Regions from separate parts of the Homo sapiens genome. Here region 2 is linked to region 1. The links come from fine-mapping of genetic effects on gene expression. A gene starts in region 1. The other region holds a variant in brackets. All regions are shown on one strand. Distances are from middle to middle.

Region 1 (8,317 bases):
GCCCGCCACCCCGCCCAGCTAATTTTTTGTATTTTTAGTAGAGACAGGGTTTCACCGTGTTATCCAAGATGGTCTCAATCTCCTGATTTCATAATCTGCCCACCTTGGCCTCCCAAAGTGCTGGGATTACAGGCATGAGCCACTGAGCCCGGCCTTTCTTTTCTTTTTTAAATGGAGTTTCGCTCTCATTGCCCAGGCTGGAGTGCAATGGCGCAATCTCGGATCACTGGCAACCTCTGCCTCCTGGGTTCAAGCAATTCTCCTGCCTCAGCCTTCGGAGTAGCTGGGATTACAGGCGCCTGCCACCACACCTAGTTAATTTTTTGTTTTTTAGTAGAGATGGGGTTTCACCATGTTGGCCAGGGTGGTCTTGAACTCCTAACCTCAGGTGATCCGCCTGCCTTGGCCTCCCAAAGTGCTGGGATTACAGGCGTGAGCCACTGCGCCCGGCCAAGATGGCATTTTTCAAGCTGGCCCATTCTGAGCTGCTCACCCCGCCCTCCCTGCCTTTCCCACAGAATCCCCAGCCAAGGCTCTGGCCTTAGCTTTCTCCCCTCTCTCTGCCTCCTGACAAAACACCGGGGCTTCTCATGTCGCCCTGCATAGTGTGAGTGTAGGGGTGGGTTGCCCCTCCACACCTGTGGGTGTTTCTCGTAAGGTGGAACGAGAGACTTAGGAAAGAAAAAGACACAGAGACAAAGTATAGAGAAAGAAATAAGGGGACCCGGGGAACCAGCGTTCAGCACATGGAGGATCCCGCCAGCCTCTGCGTTCCCTTAGTATTTATTGATCATTTGTGGGTGTTTCTCAAAGAGGGGGATGTGTCACGGTCACAAGACAATTGTGGGGAGAGGGTCAGCAGACAAACACGTGAACAAAGGTCTTTGCATCATAGACAATGTAAAGGATTAAGTGCTGTGCTTTAGATATGCATACACATAAACATCTCAATGCTTTACAAAGCAGTATTGCTGCCCGCGGGTCCCACCTCCAGCCCTAAGGCGGTTTTTCCCCATCTCAGTAGATGGAACATACAATCGGGTTTTATACTGAGACATTCCATTGCCCAGGGACAGGCAGGAGACAGATGCCTTCCTCTTGTCTCAACTGCAAGAGGCATTCCTTCCTCTTATACTAATCCTCCTCAGCACAGACCCTTTACGGGTGTCGGGCTGGGGGACGGTCAGGTCTTTCCCTTCCCACGAGGCCATATTTCAGACTATCACATGGGGAGAAACCTTGGACAATACCTGGCTTTCCTAGGCAGAGGACCCTGCGGCCTTCCGCAGTTTCTGTGTCCCTGGGTACTTGAGATTAGGGAGTGGTGATGACTCTTAAGGAGCGTGCTGCCTTCAAGCATCTGTTTAACAAAGCACATCTTGCACCGCCCTTAATCCATTTAACCCTGAGTGGACGTAGCACATGTTTCAGAGAGCACGGGGTTGGGGGTAAGGTCACAGATCAACAGGATCCCAAGGCAGAAGAATTTTTCTTAGTACAGAACAAAATGGAGTCTCCTATGTCTACTTCTTTCTACACAGACACAGTAACAATCTGATCTCTCTTGCTTTTCCCCACAGTGAGTGTCCCCATCGCTCAGGAAATGCGAGTAATAAAAATCTCCAATAACAACAGCTTCTCCATGTCTCCAGTCAGTCATGTCCATAAACTGAAAATCCTGCAGGTAGGCCAGTTGTGTCTGTAATCCCAGCACTTTGGGAGGCCAGTTTTGAGACCAGCCTGGGCAACATGGTGAAACTCCATTTCTACCAAAAATACAAAAATTGGCCAGGCATGCACTTGTGGTTCAGCTACTCAGGAGGTCGAGGTGGGAAGATCACTCAAGCCCAGGAGGCAGAGGCTGCAATGAGCTGAGATGGCGCCACTGCACTCCAGACTGGGTGAGAGTGAGACCCCATCTGAAAAAAAAAAAGTAGTTTTTCTTCTTCTTGTTTTTTGAGACAAGGTCTTGATCTGTCACCCACGCTAGAGTGCAGTGGTGCGATCTTGGCTCACTGCAGCCTTGGCCTCCCGGGTTCAAGCAATTCTCCCACCTCAGCTGGGATTACTGGGGCCCGCTACCACGCCCGGCTACTTTTTGCATTTTTAGTAGAGATGGGGTTCCACCATGTTGGCCAGGCTGGTCTCGGATTTCTGACCTCAGGTGATCCACCTGCCTCGGCCTCCCAAAGTGTTGTGCAGAGCCACTGCACCCGGCCTCCTCTTTTTTTTTAAGATGGAGTTTTGCTAGTTTCCGAGGCTGGAGTGCAATGAATGGCGGGATCTCGGCTCACCGCAAACTCTGCCTCCCGGGTTCAAGCGATTCTCCTGCCTCAGCCTCCTGAGTAGCTGACCATGTTGGTCAGCCTGGTCATTTAAGGTCGGGAGTTCGAGACCAGCCTGGCCAACATTGTGAAATCCCGTCTCTACTAAAAATACAAAAATTAGCTGGGAGTGGCGGTGTGCGCCTGTAATCCCAGATACTCGGGAGGCTGAGGCAGGAGAATCACTTGAACCGGGTAGGCAGAGGTTGCGGTCAGCCGAGATCGCACCTTTGTACTCCAGACTGGGCGACGGAGCAAAACTCCGTCTCAAAAACAGAAAAAAACAAAACAAAACAAGAAACACAACAACAAATGCAGTGCGTCATCCTAGACTGAATCCTCAACAGGGAAAAAAAGGTATAAAAGACATTTGAAGCGAGTTAAATCTGGAGTGTGGGCTGGGTCCGGATTTTGACCATTCTACGGTGTGGTTCCTAAGAGTAAATACACAGCAAAGTGTTTAGGTGTCTCCAGCGTCTCAAATGGTTTAGGAAAAAAATCCATTATGTTTATATTTACAGAGAGAATGATTCAAAAATGGAGCAAAACGTAAATAGTAGGTGAATTTGGTTCGAGAGTATTAAACAAATGGAACAAATGAAAACAGCTGGCACATTTTGGTAGTGAACACTGGGGAGTTTTCCTTGTACTTGTATTCCAACTCTTCTATGATTTAAAAAATATCCAAGTATAATAAACTGTTATAAAGAAACTGCACACCCCCAATTTTTCGATAATATAGCAGAAATATAAAATTACACATAATATAAAACTTCTTATTTTTTTGGGACAGACTCTGGCTCCGCTGCCCAGGCTGTTGTGCGGTGGTGCAATCTGAGCTCACTGCAGCCTCCACCTCCAGAGCTCAGGCGAGCCTCCCGTCTCAGCCTCCTGAGTAGCTGGGACCTCAGGCGCGCGCCACCACCGCTCCCGGCTAATTTCTTTTTGATTTTTTGTAGAGATGGGGTCTCACTATGTTGCCCAGGCTGGTATTGAACTCCTGGACTCAAGTGTTCCTCCCCCCTCGGCCTCCGAAAGTGCTGGGATTACAGGCATCAGCACCACAGCGATCACATTTACCATTTCGAAGCTGAGAATTTCCAGGCATGGCGCGGTGGCTCAGGCCTGTAATCCCAGCAGAAGCCAGCAGTCCGAGAACAGCCTGGCCAACGCGGGAAGACGCCCCCTCTACAAAAAACACAAAAAATTAGCCGGGCGTGGCGGCGCGCGCCTGACGTCCCAGCTACTAGGAAGGCAGAGGCCGCGGCGAGCCGAGGTCGGGCCGCTGCACCCCAGCCAGGGCGACCGGGCGAGACCCCGTCTCAAAATGAGTAAGTAAACAAAGTGCAAGGTTCAGAGGCAACGGGCACTTTCACACCGATGCGACCATCTCCACCTCGGTTCCTGAACATCCTCGTGGCCCCAGGGGGCGGCCTGCCCCTCCCCGCCCGCGCCGCACCCGAGCTCCCCGGCCGCGGGGCCCCCGACCCGGGTCCGCTGCCCTCACGGTGCCCTCGGAGCCACAGCTGCGGCCGGGGCCGTGCTCCGGGACGGTCCGCGTGCGCTGCTGTTTATCCATCGTCCGCGAATAGCCACGGGCGCTGCGGCCCCGTTCTCCTTTCAGTCCCCGCCGCGGCCCCACATCCGCTCCCCAACACGCACCACCACCGCGAGTTCAGGAGCACAACTGGGCACCCGCGGGCTGACGGGAGACGACCTTCGCCCCGGAAGTATCGCAGGGGCTGACCCGGAAGCGCTCGTGACCACCATTTCCGACCCGGGCAAGATGGCAGCGGCGCTGCGCGTGCGTTGTTGAGTGTTCGGGACGCCGGCCTGCAGGCGCCATGGTCTTCCTCACCGCGCAGCTCTGGCTGCGGAATCGCGTCACCGACCGCTACTTTCGGATCCAGGAGGTGCTGAAGCACGCCAGGGTGAGTGCCGCCTGCCCGGCCTGGGCACTGGGCGCCCGGGGTATCCCGCGGGCCAAGGGGCGGCCGGCGCGGGCCCCGCTGACAACCCTGGTTTCTCGTTTTCTGTCCCAGCACTTCCGGGGAAGGAAAAATCGCTGCTACAGGTTGGCGGTCAGAACCGTGATTCGAGCCTTTGTGAAATGCACCAAAGCCCGATACCTGAAGAAAAAGAACATGAGGACCGTAAGCGTGGACCCGGGACACCCGCCGGCCAGCGCACTCGCGGCCCCTGCGTTTCTGCGCCGCGACCCAGCTAGTGTGCAGCCGCCCGGCCACCCTCAGCCCCTTCCTTTCATACCTTGCTTCGAAACTCCGACAAATTATGTCGCCCCGCAGGCAAACTGTGGGACATCCGTTCTCCCGCCCCGCCGCCACCCCCACTGTCACCCCCTGCTCCAGCCCCTCGCCCGGGCCACTGCAGAGCCGCCTTGACACTCTCCCTGCGTCGCCAGCCACCGCCCTAGTCGCTGCTGCTCTCATCCCTCCGGTGGCTTCCCTTCCCTTTGGCAGCTGAAGTCAACCCAGCCCCTTGCCAACCCTCCAGGGCTACTATCTGCTGCCGTGGTGCTCCTCGAAGAGACCACGCCTGCTGCCAAGCTCTGCCCACCCGGAACCCCCCGCATTTCTGGGAGGCTGGCGCCTCCACTCTGTCCACGTGCCGCCTCATTACTGCGCCTCACCACTCCCGTCTCAGCCTCATGAACCTAGCATCTAACGTACCCCGGTTTTTTTTTCTTACCCCGAGACGGAGTCTCGCGCTGTCACCCAGGCTGGAGTGCAATGGCGCGATCTAGGCTTAATGCAACCTCGTCTCCCGGGTTCAAGCGATTTTCCCGCCCCAGTCTCCCGAGTAACTGTGACTGCAGGTGTGCGCCACCAAGCTATTTTTTGTATTTTTAGTAGAGACCGGGTTCCGCCATGTTGGTCAGGCTGGTCTCGAACTCCAGATCTGAAATGATCTGCCTGCCTTGCCCTCCCAAAGTGCTGGGATTACAGGCGTGAGACACCGTGCCCAGCTGGGTTTTTGCTGTTTTTAATTTTGAAACAGGGTCTTGATTTCGCTTAGGCCAGAGTGATGGCACCATCATAGCTCACTGATTTTGCTATTTACTTTTAGAAAAATATTCTTTAGATCAATTAGAGGCTTTGCTGGGACATAACATCCAGAAGTCATTTTTAAGTATCTTCATGTTTTCTTATTTCAGCTCTGGATTAATCGAATTACAGCTGCTAGCCAGGAACATGGACTGAAGTATCCAGCGCTCATTGGGAATTTAGTTAAGGTATGGGTGAGTATGTGGGTCCCACTGAAATTCTGGACATCTGCAGAAACCATCATGCGGGGCGTGGTGGTGCTTCCTGTAGTCCCAGCTAATCAGGAGGCTGAGGCCAGAGGATCCCTGGAGACTGACTTCTGGGCTGTAGTTTGCTATGCTGATGGGGTGTCCATGTTAAGTGTGGTATCAATATGGTGACCTCTTGGGAGCAAGGGACCACCACGTTGCCTAAGGAGGGGTGAACCAGCCCAGGCTGGAAACGGAGCAGGTCACAATTCCCATGTTGATGAGTGATGAGATTGTGCCTAGGAATAGTGCCAGCAACAGCCTGGGCAACATAGTGAGACCACTCTCTACAAAAAAATAAAATTTGCTGGGTGTGGTGGTACAGAGACATGTAATGTCAGCTACTGAGGAGTCTGAAGCAGGGGGATCACTTTGAGCCCCCAGGAGTTTGAAGCTGCAGTGAGCTATGATGGTACCACTGCACTCTAGCCTAGGTGAGAGCAGGACCCCGTCTGACAGAATAAAGAAAGCCATGGCTGGGCAGGGTGGCTCAGGCCTGTGATCCCAGCACTTTGGGAGGCTGAGGTGGGCAGGAGATGGAGACTAGCCTGGCCAACGTGGTGAAACCCTGTCTCTACTAAAAATACAAAAATTAGCCAGGTGTGGTGGCGGGCACCTAGAATTCCAGCTACTCTGGAGGCTGAGGCAGGAGAATTGCTTGAATTTGGGAGGCGGAGGCTGCAGTGAGCCGAGATCATGCCACTGCACTCCAGCCTGGGCAACAGAGCAAGACTCCATCTCTAAAAGTAAATAAATCAAACCCTCCCATCAGACCTGGCGCAGCCTGTTAGCAGTCCATGTGGCAGAGGCGAGGAGTGCCACTCCAGCTGCACCGTAGCTGCACTCTGTCTTGGTGTGGGGTTCTGGCAGGTCTGGGAGCTTACCGCACTGGTTGGCAGCAGAGCAGAATTGGAAACAGGGCACGTCTTTCTGGGATGTAAGTCCTGATGTTTCCCCATTAAGAAAAAAGGCCAGGCATCCCAACACTTTGGAAGGCTGAGGCGGACAGATCATGAGGTCAGGATATTGAGACCATCCTGGCTAACAGGTGAAACCCGGTCTCTACTAAAAATACGAAAAATTAGCTGGGCATGGTGGCCGGCACCTGTAGTCCCAGCTACTCAGGAGGCTGAGGCTGGAGAATCGCTTGAACTTGGGAGGCAGAGGCTGCAGTGAGCCGAGTTCACGCCACTGCACTGCAGCCTGGGCAACAGAGTGAGACTCTGTCTCAAAAAAAAAAAAAAGTGTAGAAAAACTTGACTTTAACTTCAAAGTTTAATTTGAAAGTTTAAACAGGCCAGGCGCGGTGGCTCACACCTGTAATCCCAGCACTTTGGGAGGCTGAGGCAGGTGGATCACAAGGTCAGGAGATCGAGACCATCCTGGCTAACATGGTGAAACCCCGACTCTACTAAAAATACAAAAAAATTAGCCAGGCGTGGTGGCGGGCATCTGTAGTCCCAGCTACTCGGGAGGCTGAGGCAGGAGAATGGCGTGAACCCGGGAGACGGAGATTGCAGTGAGCTGAGATCGCGCCACTGCACTCCAGGCTGGTCGACAGAGCGAGACTCCATCTCAAAAAAAAAAAAAAGTTAAAACAATGAGGCTGGGTGCGGTGGCTTACACTTGTAATCCCAGTATGTTGAGAGGCAGAGGCAGAGGCGGGCTGATCACCTGACATCAGGAGTTCGACAGCAGCCTGGGCAATGTGGTAAAACTCTGTCTCTATTCAAAATACAAAATGAGCCAGGCGTGGTGCTGGCATGCGCCTGTATGCTACTCGGGAGGCTGAGGCAGGAGATTGGCTTGAATCCAGAAGGCAGAAGTTGCAGTGGGCTGAGATCACACCAGTGTACTCCAGCGTGGGCGACAGTGTGTGACTGTGTCTCAACAACAACAAAAAGTTTTAATAATGAGTGATTTCTGATGACATAGCAGGTGAAATAGGAACTTACAGAAAGGAAGGGGAATGTTTTGGAGCGAACGGATGGTTTATGCAAGTGTAGCAAAATCTTGGTGATTACTGAATCTGGTCATTATGCTAGTCCCTCTGCTTGTGTACATTAAGTTTTTCCTAAAAGGTTGAGGGGGTGGGTATTTTGCAGAAGGCACTCTTTGGTGCTTTACAAAGATCTTCAGGGTAGGCTTAGGAGGTTTGACTTTCCCATTTTACTCAGGGAACTGTAGTTAAGAAAGGAGACATACTTGGCCGGGCACGGTGGCTCACGCCTGTAATCCCAGCACTTTGTGAGGCTGAGGCGGGTGGATCACGAGGTCAGGAGATCGAGACCATCCTGGCTAACATGGTGAAACACCATCTCTACTAAAAATACAAAAAGTAGCCAGGTGCGGTGGCGGGCACCTGTAGTCCCAGCTACTTGTGAGGCTGAGGCAGGAGAATGGCATGAACCTGGGAGGTGGAGCTTGCAATGAGCTGAGATCGCACCACTGCACTCCAGCTTGGGCGACACAGTGAGACTCTGTTTCAAAAAAAAGAAAGAAAGAAAGGAGACAGACTTTGCACAAAGCATACAGGTCACAGGTAGTACAGTTAGGTCACAGGTAGTAGGCCACTTTGTCCTCGGTAGCCGAATTTTGTGTTTTTGTTCCTTTTTTTTTTTGGATACAATCTCACTCTGTTGCTCAGGCTGGAGTGAAGTGGCGCGATCTTGGCTCACTG
Region 2 (8,317 bases), 110 kb after region 1:
GTGCCACCGGGGATGGCCCCTGCCCCGCGCCTGTGCACACACACACGTGCCACCGGGGATGGCCCCTGCCCCAAGCCCGTGCACACATGTGCCACCGGGGATGGCCCCTGCCCCGCGCCTGTGCACACACACACGTGCCACTGGGGATGGCCCCTGCCCCGCGCCTGTGCACACACACACGTGCCACTGGGGATGGCCCCTGCCCCGTGCCGGTGCACACACCTACGTGCCACTGGGGATGGCCCCTGCCCCACACACGTGCACACGCCTGTGTGTGGCTCCTGCAAGCTGGGTGTGTGCTGGTGTGCACTGGCATGCTGGCTTGTGCAGTGTGGATGTGCATGTGTGTGCAGGTACCATCTGCCCATGTGAGGGTGTGCACGTATACACGCGCGTGTGGGAGTGTGCTCGGCACCATCTGCCCACGTGAGGGTGTGCACACGTACGTGCGTGTGCGGGCGTGTGCTCGGCGCCACCTGTCCACGTGAGGGTGTGCGCGTGTGTGCGTGTGCGGGCGTGTGCTCGAGGGGGGGGCCATCTGCCCACGTGAGGGTGTGCGCGTGTACGTGCGTGTGCGGGCGTGTGCTCGAGGGGCCCTGGCCTGCATTGGCTCTTCTGGCTGGGGAGGAGGGGGCCTGCTGGGGAAACCATGCTGGAGCCCCTGCGGGACCGAGCAGCTCCACCCCATCCTCCAGAGGCTGGACCGCACAGCATCCCCGTCCACGAGCAGCATCGACTCCGCCACCGACACTCGGGAGCGTGGCGTGAAGGGCGAGAGTGTGCTGCAGCGTGTGCAGAGTGTGGCCGGCAACAGCCAGTGCGGCGACTGCGGCCAGCCGGACCCCCGCTGGGCCAGCATCAACCTGGGCGTGCTGCTCTGCATTGAGTGCTCCGGCATCCACAGGTGGGCCCCTGAGGGCCAGGCTGGGGGTGGGGGTTGGGCTGGAGCATCCACAGGTGGGCCCCTGAGGGCCAGGCCGGGGGTGGGGGTTGGGCCGGAGCTGGGGGCCTTGCCTCCCCCAGACTCATCCCTACCTCTGCTCTCCAGGAGCCTGGGTGTCCACTGCTCCAAGGTGCGGTCCCTGACGCTGGACTCGTGGGAGCCTGAGCTGCTAAAGGTGCGTGTGGGGCTCCTGGAGGCCACGGGACCCCGTTTGTGGGGGCGGGAGCTGGGGTCTGCAGGTTCGCACTGATGCCTGCTCGCCCTGTCTCCCGCTAGCTGATGTGTGAGCTTGGAAACAGCGCTGTGAATCAGATCTATGAGGCCCAGTGTGAGGGTGCAGGCAGCAGGAAACCCACAGCCAGCAGCTCCCGGTGAGGTGGGGTACAGTCTGGATCAGTCAGGGAGCCCCAGCCTGGGGGCACAGCCTCATGTTCCCCCCTGGTCCAGGCAGGACAAGGAGGCCTGGATCAAGGACAAATACGTGGAAAAGAAGTTTCTGCGGAAGGCGCCCATGGCACCAGCCCTGGAGGCCCCAAGACGCTGGAGGGTGCAGAAGTGCCTGCGGCCCCACAGCTCTCCCCGCGCTCCCACTGCCCGCCGCAAGGTCCGGCTTGAGCCCGTTCTGCCCTGTGTGGCCGCTCTGTCCTCAGGTGGGAGGCCATGCCCCGGCAGGGCTGGGAGGGGCTTGCCTTGGTCGGGGATGGACTCCGTCAAGGGGCTGGTGGCAGGGCTCTGGGGGCACCTCAGGCTCCGCAGACTCCCGGCGTGACCTGGGGTTCCCTGCCCCACCCCGGGCCTGTTCCACACTCTGAACACGCACTGCCCCTGCAGTGGGCACCCTGGATCGTAAGTTCCGCCGAGACTCCCTCTTCTGTCCCGACGAGCTGGACTCGCTCTTCTCCTACTTCGACGCAGGGGCCGCAGGGGCTGGCCCTCGCAGTAAGTGTGGGGTGGGCCCAGCCAGGTGGCAGGGCAGGGCCAAGGAGGCTGGCCTGAAGGGTGCCTGAGTGTGGATGGCCCTTGCCAGGGAATGGAGCAGCATCTGAAGGGGCGGGGGGCCTCCTGGCCACACAGCTGGAGGCCAAGGCCCTGACTGTCAGGGGTGAGCTGTGCAAATGTGTGTGTGGGCTGTGTGCACCTGGGTGTGTGCACACAGCGGGTGGCCCGGGGTGCTGGGGAAGCAGAGGGCGCTGCCAGCCGGCCCTCAGCCTAGGGCCCTTCTGGAGCCATGCTGCCCGTTGGTTGGGTGGAGACATTTCAGCCTGGGCCAGCCACAGACGGGGCTGGGGGGCCCACTGCGGGGGGTGCCGGGTAAGGCGGCGAGCGGGAGGGAAGGGCTTCCCAAAAGGCCTGGGCTTTAGGGGGCTACCCCTGGCACCTTTGAGCTGTTATTTGGTTTTCTCTCCTTTGCTCCTAGCCTGCAGCTGGCTCCCCCCGGCCCTGGGTGGGAGCTGGTCCTGTCCCTAGGGGTGGCCCCTGGAGGGTGGGTGGAGTTCCAGCCTTGCCCCAGGGCTCTGGACGGAGTCTGGGCCTCCCACCCTCAGGACCCCCTTCCCTGCGGACCTGCAGGTCTGAGTAGCGACAGTGGCCTTGGGGGCAGCTCGGATGGCAGCTCGGACGTCCTGGCTTTCGGCTCGGGCTCTGTGGTGGACAGCGTCACTGAGGAGGGTGGGTGGCGTCTTGCCCTCGCCCGAGGCCCCTGCCCAGCCCCTGGGCAGCCCCGGGGGTTGCTTTCCCTGACCGCCCCCTCCCCACAGAGGGTGCAGAGTCGGAGGAGTCCAGCGGTGAGGCAGACGGGGACACTGAGGCCGAGGCCTGGGGCCTGGCGGACGTGCGCGAGCTGCACCCGGGGCTCTTGGCGCACCGCGCAGCGCGTGCCCGCGACCTTCCTGCGCTGGCGGCGGCGCTGGCCCACGGGGCCGAGGTCAACTGGGCGGACGCGGAGGATGAGGGCAAGACGCCGCTGGTGCAGGCCGTGCTAGGGGTGAGCGAGCCACGGGGGCTGCGCGCAGGACACAGGTGCACAGTCGCGTTTGCATCTTCTGTGGCGCCCACACAAGGGTCGCCTGTCCGCGGTGGGGACCACGTTCGGTCCCGGCTGGGGGCGCCCAAGGCCGGGGTCAGGGTGCAGAGGCGCGGAGAGGGGCCGGTGCCGTGGCTCCGTCTGAGTTGCCCCGGCTCCCCAGGGCTCCTTGATCGTCTGTGAGTTCCTGCTGCAAAACGGAGCGGACGTGAACCAAAGAGACAGCCGGGGCCGGGCGCCCCTGCACCACGCCACGCTGCTGGGCCGCACCGGGTGAGACGCGCAACCCACGCCCCGCCCTGTGCCCCGACCACGCCTACCCCGGCCCGGCTACGCCCTGTCCGCCATGCCCTATCCGGCCACGCCCCCGCGACCACACTCGCCCCGCCCCGCCCCGCCCCGACACGCCCCTCCGACCTCGCCCCTCAGCCAGGTTTGCCTGTTCCTGAAGCGGGGCGCGGACCAGCACGCCCTGGACCAAGAGCAGCGGGACCCGTTGGCCATCGCAGTGCAGGCGGCCAACGCTGACATCGTGACACTGTGAGCGCGGCCGGGCCCTCGGGGCTGGGCGGGGCCTCCAGGGCAGGGGCGGGGCCTCCAGGGCAGGGGCGGGGCCTCCAGGGCAGGGGCGTCTCACGCTGTGCCTCCCCGTAGGCTCCGTCTGGCGCGCATGGCGGAGGAAATGCGCGAGGCCGAGGCTGCCCCTGGTCCCCCGGGCGCCCTGGCGGGCAGCCCCACGGAGCTCCAGTTCCGCAGGTGTATCCAGGAGTTCATCAGCCTCCACCTGGAAGAGAGCTAGGGCCGGGCAGGCCGGGCAGCTGCCACCCCGCCCGGCCCGACGCCCCGCATGCCCCGAAGTCCCTGGCGCCCACCCGGCCGCGGCCCTGCGTGTGACCCGCGGGTCGATACCTGGCAGCCCCAGTGCTGGGGCGCCGCGGCCCTGCTCGCCCAGGAGGAGAGCGAGGGCCCCACACTGAGTCTCTTGAAGCCTCACGTTTCCCTGGGGGGGTGCTGCATCGTCGGGTGTCCCTCACCCCACCTGGGGAACCTCTGTCTTCAGGTCACCCCTTTTCAGGGGCCTGGGTTGCTCATGTCACAAGCCACTTTTAAGGCCCGTGTCACCTGTGTCCCTGTGTCCTCAGGGCCTGTGTTACTTCGTGCCCCACTTCTGCCCAGAACACTGACCTGTTAGCTGGCTCCCTCCTGCACACCCCAGAGCCTCCTCCCAGGGCAGAAAGGGTGGCCCATCCAGGGAACCAACGAGTACCTCACTTAGTGACCCCAGCATCCAGGCTGGCGTCGCGGGTGCTGGGCGGGAGGGGCTCTGGCCTGGGTCCTCAGCCCTGGCTGGACGCGGGCGTCCCAAGGCCACGTGGCTGGCCACGAAGGTCCCCGTGCCAGACAGCCCCAGCCGCATCCCGGCCTCCTCCGGAGGCACCTTCTCCTGGTACTCGGCCCAGAGCCTGCGCATAAAGCCACTTTGCCACTTTGCAGCCCTCATCTCATGTTCTTTGTAGCGGACCGAGTGGGTTTGCTATAGGCCTCGTCTGACTTTGTCTTGCGTCTTTTCTCTGTGGACTCTTGAGGACGCCTGAGCCCCAGCCCTGCCCCTGACCAGCCTCCCCCTTGGGTCCAGGGGTCTTTCGGCTCATATTGCAGGGCCTGCCAATGCCTTCACGCACCCCTTCCCCAAAGGTGCCCGGCAGGGAGGCAGGGCCTCCCCCACTCAGCGCAGGTCAGGCTAAGGCCAGTCGGCTGGTCACTATGCAATGCTGCCCTGGGGAGGCTCCCTGAGGGCACAGTGGGCGCTGGACCCGGCCCCCCAACTCTCTTGCCTGCTGCCTGTGACCCTGAAGAACAGAATTGATTCTTGCCCCTCTCCCTGTGTGAGCTTG[G/A]CCCCGCCTCTTGCCCCAGGCCCCTGCTGGCGGGTCTCACCCCCCACCCCTCGCTTTGAATAAAGCACTTGCGCCCACTGCCTGCTCCTGGGCTCCCGTGCCTTGCTCTGCTCTGTCTCCGGGGAGTGTCTGTGTCCCTTGCCCTCCCCGAGGGGCATTCCTGAGCCGGGTAGCACTCACTCAAGTCAGACTCCAACAGGCCGCAAGGGGCCTGATGGGGACCTGGGGCTCGTTTGACAAAATCTGGGTCCTGATGCCCCTGGTCCCCATTGTCTCGCCCTTCTACCCTTCTCTGTCCTAGACTGAGTTTCCTGGTGGGAAGAGGGGTGGACGCGAACCGGCGAGGCTAGGCTGGGGCTCGTCCCGCCAGGTGCAGTCAGGGTTTCAGCTCACCGGGCGCGGGGCGGCTGGAGGGGCACACAGGCACACACTGGCCGCCAGGTGGAGTCAACAGCTTTATTTCAGAGCAGCCCAAGTGTGTCCGTGGGGCCTGCCTTGCCTTCTGCCTCCCTGCAGCTGAGGTGGCTAGGCTTGACACACGTACACAGGTGCATCAGACGTGTGGACATGCAGACACAGACACACGGAGCATGGGTACATCACCGCGTGTCGGCACGTCCAGCCGCACTCGTGTGCACGCGGGAACCCCCCTCCGCCCCGGGCCTCCTTGAGACCCACCCCAGGCAGTGTAGGTGGTTTGACCAGAGGCGCCGACATGCCCGGTGCCTGCCTCCCCACGGCCGCGTGTGCTGCTTCCTGGGCTGCTGGTCTGGCCCACCCTGGGCCGCTGGGGAGCCTGCTGCTGCCACAGCTGCAAGGACCAGGCCAAGAGATCGCACAGCCCTGGCAGGTCTGGTTCAGGTGTCCAGAGTCTCAAGGGGCTGGGGCCCAGCCCAGCTCTCTTCGGCTGAGACTCCCGCCAGAACCCCTGGAAGCATCACCCGTGGGAGATGAGGCCCGCTGGGCTCCGGGTCATCTGACGTGCCGCCTGCAGGCGGGGGCATCTGACTGGCCTCTGGCTTGATGCTGGACGCCCCTGAGGCAGGGCTGGCTCTGGGCCAGGAGAACCACGCCCTGCGGAGCCGGCGGCCGCCTAGCACCAGGGTGAGGGCAGAAGCATCGAGCAGCAGCTCCAGGAGCTCCAGGAGGGAGAGGACGGAGGCCCCAAACCACAGGCTGCAGAGGCTGCCCATGGCCGAGAGCAGCTGCGGCACCTGCGGGTGGGGTGCGGGTGTGAGGGGCGGGCCCAGGCCCCCGTGCCCCTTCTGTGCAGGGCCAGCCACTGTCGCTGCCCCCGCTCTAGCCCAGGCAGGGGGCCAAGGCTCACCGAGTACACGGGCGCCTCCTCCACTGAGCGGTAGTTGAGCTCCTGGTAGACGATGTTGATTTTGGCCAGGCTGCTCCTGGGGCAGGATAGAGGCATGAGGGCGCTGGCCCAGACCTTCATGATGGGGAGGGGGGCTTTGAGGGGAGAGGGGCTGTGATGCCTCTCTGGAGGGGGAGGGTGCACCCACCTCTGTCTGTGGCTCTGATGCGGCAGCCCCTGTTCACCTAGCGTGGCCAGAGTCCATCCCTGCAGACGGAAGGTTTGCTGTGGCCACGGCTCCCCCATGCCCCCGGCCATCCTGGGTACCACGGGCGGATGTGGGGGCAGAGACCACGGGGCATAGGCTGGGTCAGTTCCGGCCCTGCCCTTGTCTTGGGTGGGCTCTGTGGGACCTGTGGGGTCTGCCTGGCTGTCCACACCCCCACCCCACCACTTTGGGGACTCACAGCTGACTTGGCGGAAGGCCACCTGGAGGTCCCAGTGGAGAGCTTGAATGCAGACTCCCTGGAAGAGACAGCCGGGTGTCACCTGCCACGCTACCTGGGGCAATGATCCCTGGCCGCGACCCCAACACCCCCGTCTCACCTGCAGGGCCTGGGGCAGCGGGAGGTACAGGGGAGCCGGTGGGTCTCCAGGTCCTGGTAGAGGCGGTAGAAGCAGTGTCCTTGGGGAGGGGTCAGAGGCATGTGTGAGGCTCGCTGTGACCCCCCGGCTAATGGCTGACAGAGTGGGAGGCAGCGAGCAGGACTCACCCCAGGCAGGGTGCCGGGCAGAGCTGCAGTACTCAGCCCCCGCCGGCAGAGGGTGGAGGTAGTAGCCACAGGAGCAGGTCTCCACCATCAGCTGCTGGAAGCAGGACACCAGGCAGGCCTGGGGACAGGGGGGATGAGCAGGGACATGGGATGGAGCGGAGACATGGGGGACGGGGCAGAGACACGGGACGGAGCAGGGACACGGGACGGAGCAGGGACACGGGACGGAGCAGAGACACGGGACGGAGCAGAGACACGGGGGACGGAGCAGAGACACGGGACGGAGCAGAGACACGGGACGGAGCAGAGACACGGGACGGAGCAGAGACACGGGACGGAGCAGGGACACGGGACGGAGCAGAGACACGGGACGGAGCAGGGACACGGGACGGAGCAGGGACACGGGACGGAGCAGACACGGGGGACGGAGCAGAGACACGGGACGGAGCAGAGACACGGGGGACGGGGCAGAGACACGGGACGGAGCAGAGACACGGGACGGAGCAGAGACACGGGACGGAGCAGAGACTCGGGGGACGGACACGGGACGGGGCAGAGACACGGGGGACGGAGCAGAGACACGGGACGGAGCAGGGACACGGGGGACGGAGCAGAGACACGGGACGGAGCAGAGACACGGGGGACGGAGCAGAGACACGGGGGACGGAGCAGGGACACGGGACGGAGCAGAGACACGGGACGGAGCAGAGACTCGGGGGACGGAGCAGGGACACGGGACGGAGCAGAGACACGGGACGGAGCAGAGACACGGGACGGAGCAGAGACACGGGACGGAGCAGAGACACGGGACGGAGCAGGGACACGGGACGGAGCAGGGACACGGGACGGAGCAGGGACACGGGACGGAGCAGACACGGGGGACGGAGCAGAGACACGGGACGGAGCAGAGACACGGGGGACGGGGCAGAGACACGGGACGGAGCAGAGACACGGGGGACGGAGCAGAGACACGGGACGGAGCAGAGACACGGGGGACGGAGCAGAGACACGGGACGGAGCAGAGACACGGGGGACGGAGCAGAGACACGGGGGACGGAGCAGGGACACGGGACGGGGCAGAGACACGGGACGGGGCAGGGACACGGGACGGAGCAGGGACACGGGGGACGGAGCAGAGACACGGGACGGAGCAGAGACACGGGGGACGGAGCAGAGACACGGGACGGAGCAGAGACACGGGGGACGGAGCAGAGACACGGGGGACGGAGCAGGGACACGGGACGGGGCAGAGACACGGGACGGAGCAGGGACACGGGACGGAGCAGGGACACGGGGGACGGAGCAGAGACTCGGGGGACGGAGCAGAGACACGGGACGGAGCAGAGACTCGGGGGACGGAGCAGGGACACGGGACGG

Evidence for each region. PIP is the estimated chance that this variant, and not a neighbour inherited with it, causes the effect.
Region 2: its variant is fine-mapped to the expression of MRPL20 in whole blood (Lepik 2017, PIP 0.94).

What each region holds. Positions count from the first base shown.
Region 1 is chr1:1,403,069-1,411,385 of GRCh38, reverse strand. MRPL20 (mitochondrial ribosomal protein L20) reads left to right here and starts at 4,093. Exons shown (of 4, transcript NM_017971.4): 1 at 4,093-4,255; 2 at 4,367-4,477; 3 at 5,500-5,577. The coding sequence starts at 4,169. It overlaps MRPL20-DT (MRPL20 divergent transcript), which reads right to left and starts at 3,038. Exons shown (of 1, transcript NR_170330.2): 1 at 702-3,038. It also overlaps the pseudogene RN7SL657P. RefSeq lists enhancers at 1-194, 195-1,083, 1,084-1,971, 2,895-3,561, 4,019-4,148 and 2 more and silencers at 3,649-3,838, 4,319-4,378.
Region 2 is chr1:1,289,012-1,297,328 of GRCh38, reverse strand. SCNN1D (sodium channel epithelial 1 subunit delta) reads right to left here. Exons shown (of 18, transcript NM_001130413.4): 13 at 6,941-7,058; 14 at 6,774-6,852; 15 at 6,635-6,692; 16 at 6,376-6,434; 17 at 6,189-6,264; 18 at 5,304-6,075. The coding sequence ends at 5,719. It overlaps ACAP3 (ArfGAP with coiled-coil, ankyrin repeat and PH domains 3), which reads left to right. Exons shown (of 24, transcript NM_030649.3): 15 at 696-904; 16 at 1,049-1,118; 17 at 1,220-1,314; 18 at 1,391-1,593; 19 at 1,775-1,882; 20 at 2,513-2,611; 21 at 2,701-2,927; 22 at 3,130-3,239; 23 at 3,396-3,506; 24 at 3,621-4,938. The coding sequence ends at 3,765. It overlaps MIR6726 (microRNA 6726), which reads left to right and starts at 1,159; the gene lies at 1,159-1,219. RefSeq lists enhancers at 1-146, 4,391-4,936, 7,401-7,973, 8,246-8,317 and a silencer at 5,241-5,310. The variant G/A (reference allele first, on the strand shown) is at 4,862.